Homo sapiens: one gene and its partner. Changing the gene in region 1 together with any one later gene gives a genetic interaction. Each region holds a gene or a part of one and is shown on either strand. Other genes may lie near its edges.

Region 1 (4,009 bases):
AATGATAAACAAAGCAGCTGCACAGCACAGACTCTTTCACTGGTCTTCCATGTGGCCCAAGAGTTTTGGAGTCTCCACATTTCAGCAGATGTGCTGATATGGCCTTTACCAGCAGCATTTGGAAGTGAAGGTTCCAATGCAAGCCATCAGTAACAATGGCAGACTTGGTACCTTATGGGCACCAAGGGACTACCTTGTCCTTCCCTACTCCAGGCACCCCTGGATGCCCACATACTTCCCACACCTGCTCAAGGTTCCAACATGCACGCCCTATATAGGTGCCAAGGCCCATACGGGGTGTTCATTTCTGAGAAGGGGAATGTGTCCACTGGGGAACAAGGGTTTTGCATCTGCATCTGGAGGAAGCACCCCATGGGGTCCTTTGGGTGTCCTCAGCTGGTCACACAGGCCAGGCTAGGCTCTACAGGGACCACTGTGAGTGGTGGCCCCAAGCAGGCCTCACTCCAGGGCCCACTATGGTCTCAACTGAAACCACTCCATTTGACCAGCTTTACATGATGGATTCCACAAAGTTCTGTTTGCAAAAAGAGTTCCCGCAGTTCCCTCAAACAAGGTGTGGATACCCATGAGTAAGCTATTTTACACTCTTCTTGCTTTCAACAGCTTCAGCTACTCATTCATCCATCCACCTCTTCCCTACACACCTCCCAGGTGCCTCCTGATGCCTGGCCATGTGCAGGGCTACCCAACCTGCTCCCAGAGCTCGTGCTGAATGGAGCTGTGTGTGTGGTGGACAGTCAGGCCAGTGCCGCCCAGGGTGCTGACAGACTGTGCTGTGAGAGGCGGGGAGACCCCTGACTTTTATTTATTTTTTTTGAGATGGACTCTCGCTCTGTCGCCAGGCTGGAGTACGATGGTGCGATCTCAGGTCACTGCAACCTCTGCCTCCTGGGTTCAAGTGATTCTCCTGCCTCAGCCTTCCAAGTAGCTGGGACTACAGGAATGCACCACCATGCCCAGCTAATTTTTGTATTTTTAGTAGAGACGGGGTTTCACCATGTTGGCCGGATGGTCTTGATCTCTTGACCTTGTGATCCGCCCGCCTCGGCCTCCCAAAGTACCGGGATTACAGGCGTGAGCCACCATGCCCAGCCGACCCCTGACTTTTAAACAGTGAAGACTGACCCCCCAGATTGTTGAGCCAGTGTGTCGCCTGCTGGCTGGCCCATTTTGGTAGCCTGAAGTAATGTGAGTTTCAACTGTTATTTTATTTCATCTTGCCTTTGTTACTTGTTAATGGATGAGGAAAATGAAAAAGTACAAGTATTAGTGCTGGTGGTAACTCAGCCTCATACAGTTAATAAAATACAAAAAAGATGAGAAGCTTGAGGCATACCCAAGTGGCAAATCTTTAACAAGCTACTTACGTAAGAGAACACATTTGAAACACAGTGTTGAAAACTGTCCCTAAATGGAGAGTGAAACAGGGAGTTCTACAAAAACTGTAACGCTACACCTCCCCAGCTACGAGACTCCCTGCCCAGACATGTCAATCTACCACTGAAGTTCTGCAGACTGGATTTCTGCATACATTTCCATGAAAGAACATCTTATTTTATAGTTCGGGGGCCAGCTTGTTCATCTATGTACCTAGGTGCACTGAAGGCCTCGTGGAGGAGTGACAGTCACAGGGCAGCCTTCATCCACAGCCTACCCTGCCTCACCACTGTCTTCTGCTTCATATCCTCATGACCTAGGACCCAGCTGTCATCTCCTGCTGGATGCCCCTGGCTTCAGATCTGATCGGCCGTCCCCAAGCCACTGTAAGAGCACCTGGGGCTGGTCTCTGCCTACAGCTTTGACCTGTCCAAGCCAGGGCTGCGTAATGCAAAAGCCTTGCCCTGCTCGCGCCCCTCCTGCCATCGGGAGTCAGAACGAGGAAACCATCTAGGCCCTGCAACGCCGCTTGCCTCTCAATGGCAGGGGCCCCCACCATCGGAAGAATTCCTCTGTGCCTGGAAGGCCCCTTTCCCTGCCCTGCATGCACTGGCACGCTCCCACAGCTCTCAGGTCTGCCTCAACTATGAGGACTCATCTATGCGTCTGTCTCCCCTAGGGGTCTGCAAGTCCCTCGCGGGTAGGACTGTCTAGATGAACCCCTCAGGCCACAGCTGGGCACAGCTGATGCTCTGGAAAGGCTGCTGGGAGCAGGGTGGGGATCTGGTCCCAGGCTATTACCTCCTTCTCGAGCAGAGAGGTCAGCTCGTGTGTGGAGAGCCGGTCACCCCCATCTTCAGAAGACAGGTGGACGGGGGCGATGGGCACCTGCTTCTCTTCCCGGAGAGGTGTGGTCTCCACCTGATGCCACCGCTGCTCAATCTCCACGTGGACGTTATGCGTTTTGAGGTCGCTCATAGGCAGCCCTGGGCTCCGGTCCACCTCCATGCGCAGGGCTGCATCCTCAGTGCCTGGCCCGTCTGTGGCGTCGAGCATCCCGAAGCGCTTGCGGCGCTCCTCCCGCCTCCGTGCACGCTCCCGCTCCAGCTCCCCAGGCTCCGCCTCAGGGCGCAGGGGCTCGTGGGTGTCAGCAGGCCCCACGCCGCCCACCCGCTCCTGAGCCAGGGCCTGCTGGATGGGACGGAACTCAGCCCAGTCAAAGGTCTTGGAGCGGCCCTCTCGCCTCCGCTCCCGTGCGCGGCTCCTCTTCTGCTCAGGGTCCGGCTCCCCCAGCTCTGCCTCTTGCTTCTCAGTAGGCCTCGGGCAGGTCTCAAAAGAGCAGCTGCTCTTGTTTTTTTCCTCTGGCAACGAGCTGTGGGGCAGGAGGATGGACATAGCCTGTCAGGGGCGGCTCTGGTGTGGCCTGCCAGGCAGAAGCTGGCAATGCTGAGCCACAACCCAGCCCCTGTGAGCACCACATCCTTTTTCTATCCTAATCCCAGCTTCCTAAGTGCAGGGAGGACAGGAATACTCTGCCTTTACCCCACATCCCTTCCCAAACTGGTTCTGAGTGGGGGAGGGGGAGGGGGACGGGGAGGGGAAGGGGAAAGGAAGGGAAAAGAGCCTCAGAAAGCTGAGGTTTCCCACATAATGACACTGGGGGGGTCCCTTGACTGAAGAGGCTGTGAGGGGCTCACTGTGGTGGTCCCGTTGCCAGGGTATGGAGCCAGGGGAGTCCCAGGACTCCCACAGCCTCAGAGGCAGGACGGGCCAGCCCTGCCTTGCTCAGGGCCAAGAACTACATTAGGCTGCACCTGGGCACAGCCACCGTACCTGCCAGGTGAGGCCTGGGCCCTGTGCACCCCTGGACTGGACAGTGGTGACAGAATGAGGGAAAACTAGCACTTTCTAGAAGGGCTTACCTTTTAATAAGCAGGTAACGTGATCAGATCTATGTTTTGTTTTTTTTTTTTTTGAGATGGAGTTTCACTCTTGTTACCCAGGCTGGAGTGCAATGGCGCGATCTCGGCTCACCACAACCTCTGCCTGCTGGGTTCAAGCGATTCTCCTGCCTCAGCCTCCCAAGTAGCTGGGATTACCGGCATGCGCTACCATGCCTGGCTAATTTTGTATTTTTAGTAGAAACGGGGTTTCTCCATGTTGGCCAGGCTGGTCTCAAACTCCTGACCTCAGGTGATCCGCCTGCCTCCCAAAGTGCTGGGATTACAGGCGTGAGCTACTGTGCCCAGCCTGAATCTATGTTTTAAAAGCCCAATCCAGCTGCTGGCATGACAGATGGATCAGTATGAAAGACTGGGACCTCCTAAGGGTGAGGGAAACAGGAGGCCCAGGTGGCCACGAGTTCACACCATGCAGTAGCCAGAGGCTTGGAGAGGAAGGCAGAAGGGGAGAAGGACACTGGGTTACCTGCCACCTTGAGCAGGCAAGCGGCAGCCAGCAACGGGACATGAGCTGCGCAGGTCGTGCTCATGGTGCTGCTACCTGCCCTGCAGTAAGTGGAGTGAAGCCAGGTCTGCCTGAGGAATCCATGTCTAGTCCCCATCTGCTAGAAGCAGAGATTCCTGGGGAGGCCTCGTCTGCAGTAGGGCAG
Region 2 (3,500 bases), on another chromosome or scaffold:
CACAAGCCACACTGAGAAAGCCGTTGCCTCCAGCTCATGGAGAGAAACACCTTCTCAGCTGCCACGTCATGAGCAAGTTTGCTTCGGGACCACCTGGGAAACCAGGAGTAGAAGGGGTAAACTCTTCCTCATCTGCCACAGGCCTGCCTTGCCTCAGGCCACGTCACCTTACCCCAGCCATGTTGCCAGGGCATGAGGACTAAGATGCTTGCCCTGCCAAGCCCGGAGGGGATGAGCAGCCTCAGCTGGTGCCGCCACAGACAGCACACCACAGAGGTGGCTCAGGGACCTTGGTAGATGGGAATGTGAGAATCTATTAAAATAGGCAGGGATCTCCGGTCCTCTGTCAAGAGGCAATGCTGACGGCTTTTTCCTGCTGGCGTGCCTCTGCCCACCAGCCTTCCCCTTGCACATCCTCATTTGTCACCTCCTAATTTGAATTATTGGGCAAATCTGGCCGCTTATTTGGGACTGACAGCCAACTTCTTGAGCATCTATTTGAACAGCCTTCCCTTTCGCTCCCAGCCACCTTTGAGGTGAGTCCAAGTGGCAGGACAGGACCCTGTGTGACAGAGCGGAGGTCTTGTGCCCTCTCAGCTTCTTCTCTGCTTTCTTACAGCTCACCTTGCAGAGCGCCAAGTCCCGAGTGGCCTTCTTTGAAGAGCTCTAGCAGGTGACCCAGCCACCCCAGGACCTGCCACTTCTCCTGCTACCGGGACCGCGGGATGGACCAGATATCAAGAGAGCCATCCATAGGGAGCTGGCTGGGGGTTTCCGTGGGAGCTCCAGAACTTTCCCCAGCTGAGTGAAGAGCCCAGCCCCTCTTATGTGCAATTGCCTTGAACTACGACCCTGTAGAGATTTCTCTCATGGCGTTCTAGTTCTCTGACCTGAGTCTTTGTTTTAAGAAGTATTTGTCTTCCTTTGTCTAATGTGGGATTCCTGACTCCCTTCGTCCAAGGCACCGGTGTGTGTGTGTCTTGCACTCCAGAGCTGACCTCCACCGCCCAGCCTGGGAAGTCATTGTAGGGAGTGAGACACTGAAGCCCTGAGAAGCCAGTGCCATCATCCCCACCCCGCCCAGGGTTCCGGAACATTCATTCCCCCACCGGTGAGGACCTGGCATGCAGCGAAGCAGCCCAGCCCGGCGGATCCCAGGCCAGCACGCCTGCCGGCTTCTCATCGTCAGGGAGCCCGCCCAGAGCTCGTGACGAGCAAGTGCTGGGTCCCCGCCAGGCACCCCGAGGCGGCGCTCTGGCTGGCAGCTGGTGGGGAATAGGCAGGGCAGCTGTGGCTGGGGAGAGACTTTAGGCAGAAGCTGTGATGCAGGCTGACTGCCAGCCGAGGGGCTGGGTAGTGCCGTGCGGGAGCTGATGGTACAGGGCACTCGCTGTCCCCCTCCGGCCACCCTAGACCAGGGTCCGAGAGGCAGGCAGGAGCCACTCATGTCTTCCCCATTGCCCGACGCCCATAGACGCTCCTTCCTGTGTGGGGCTGGGGTACTCCCTGGTCGTACTGCAGTCAGCACCCGTAACCCGGCTATGACCAGGGATCTGTAAGCCCTGTGGCTCCACAGGTGCTGCTTCTCACTGGCCCAGACTCTGAGCTCCACCGGCCCAGTCTGCACGGCCCATCTGCTTCACCTTCCCTCCCAGCCACGTGCCAGTGGCCACAGCCCACTTCCCAACCCACTGTTGTACCCAGGCCTCACTTTGCTGTTGCCCTTGTCCCTCTTCGGGCCCTGAATTTTCTGTTCCCTGGGGGCCAGCCAGGGCCCTTTGTGCCCCTCCCAGCACAGGCCTGATGCAGGTGTCCACTCACAGGTGGCGCTCACCTAGGCTGTCACAGGACCCACCTCCATGCCAGGCAACAGAGGGCCACAGAACCACCCCCACGGCTCACTCCTTGGTCTGGGGCCACCTTCTTGCCCTTTCTTTTTTTTTTTTTTTTTTTTTTTCCGAGATGGAGTCTCTCTCTGTCACCCAGGTGGGAGTGTGGTGGCACAATCTCGGCTCACTGCAACCTCCACCTCCTGAGTTCAAGCAATTCTCCTGCCTCAGCCTCCCAAGTAGCTGGGACTACAGGCATGCACCACCACACTTGGCCAATGTTCTGTATTTTTAATAGGGACGGGGTTTTGCCATGTTAGCTAGGCTGGTCTCAAACTCACACCTGGGATTACAGGCATGAGCCACTGCACCCAGCCCCTTCTTGCCCTTTCTTTTCTCCATGGCTGATGCTGCTGTGGCCAGCCAGGGCCCTTGAGATCCTTCCAGTTTGGCTGTTATGCAAAGCAGGTGATTTGTCTTAATCAGATAAAAGATAGAGGCTATGGGGGCCTCAAGATTTTTGGAGAGCAGAGGTGGTCTCTGGCAATTCCATCTGGTTTTGAGAAACTTAGCAGCTCACAGAGCACAGAGATCCTGCCTTCTTCCTACTATCAGGCTGACCTAATGGGGTTGGGCTGCTCGGCAACTGCTTGGGTCACCTTGCCCCAAGGAAACCAGCCCTGGGTGCCACCCAGCCACTTAGGGTCTACAGGGTGGGACTCCAGACCTAGAGCGTAAGTATGGATGTTGTGGCCCTGTGTCTTCCTAGTGTGACCCAGCCAGGAGCGGAAGCTTCAGGCGTTTGTAAAGTGAGGTCTGGCTCTGCCTCCTCCGTTTTTTTTTTTTTTCTGTTTCTGTTTCTGTTTTTTTTTTGAGATGGAGTCTCGCTCTGTCGCCCAGGCTGGAGTGCAGTGTCACGATCTCAGCTCACTGCAACCTCCGCCTCCCAGGTACAAGAGATTCTCCTGCCTCAGCCTCCCGAGTAGCTGGGACTACAGGCGTGTGCCACCATGCCTGGCTAATTTTTGTATTTTTAGTAGAGATGGGGTTTCGCCATGTTAGCCAGACTGGTCTCGAACTCCTGACCTCAGGTGATCCTCCCACCCCGGCTTCCCAAAGTTCTGGGATTATAGGCGTGAGCCACCATGCCCGGTCTCTTCTCAGTCTTGAAGCCCATCCCTGGATTTCCACCAGGAGTTACTTTCCTCCTGACCTGTAAATTTGTTCTTTAACAATGGCTGCAGGTGGGAGCATATGGTGGTTTATAAAAACGCTGTCGGGCTTTGTTTCCTTCTTTAGCTGCCGTGTCTACTTCTGAAGTCTGGGAAGTGCCAAGCCACGCGGCCTCAAGGGAGCTGGCTGGTGTTTGAGCTGTGGCAGAAGCACCTGGGGCTCCAGGGAGCAGGCTGGGAACTGCAGGACCTTGCTCAGCCAGGAGCACTTCCCCCTCCTTGAGGCAGGAATACTGAGGTGCCTCCCCACAGATGGAGAAGGTGGAGAGGAGGATGGGCCTCAGGAGCATCTCAAGCCCCAGTAGCAGGAGAAAGAAAGAAAGAGATGCCTGGTTTTCACAGACTGGTTCCTGTGGCTGGGATGACTGCATCCTTTTTTTTTTTTTTTTGAGACGGAGTTTTTGCCTTTGTCGCCCAGGCTGGAGTGCAATGGCGTGAT

The links.
Region 2: changes in MPRIP (region 1) and NF2 together harm fitness more than expected from each alone (negative genetic interaction), as found in Homo sapiens cells (one large-scale study listed by BioGRID).

What each region holds. Positions count from the first base shown.
Region 1 is NC_000017.11:17,157,193-17,161,201, reverse strand, and holds part of MPRIP (myosin phosphatase Rho-interacting protein), read right to left. Parts: intron 2,771-4,009; coding exon 2,200-2,770; intron 1-2,199. UniProt on the Homo sapiens protein: Targets myosin phosphatase to the actin cytoskeleton. Required for the regulation of the actin cytoskeleton by RhoA and ROCK1.
Region 2 is NC_000022.11:29,694,133-29,697,632, forward strand, and holds part of NF2 (merlin), read left to right. Parts: intron 1-619; coding exon 620-670; coding exon of another isoform or gene 671-677; 3' UTR 678-3,500. UniProt on the Homo sapiens protein: Probable regulator of the Hippo/SWH (Sav/Wts/Hpo) signaling pathway, a signaling pathway that plays a pivotal role in tumor suppression by restricting proliferation and promoting apoptosis.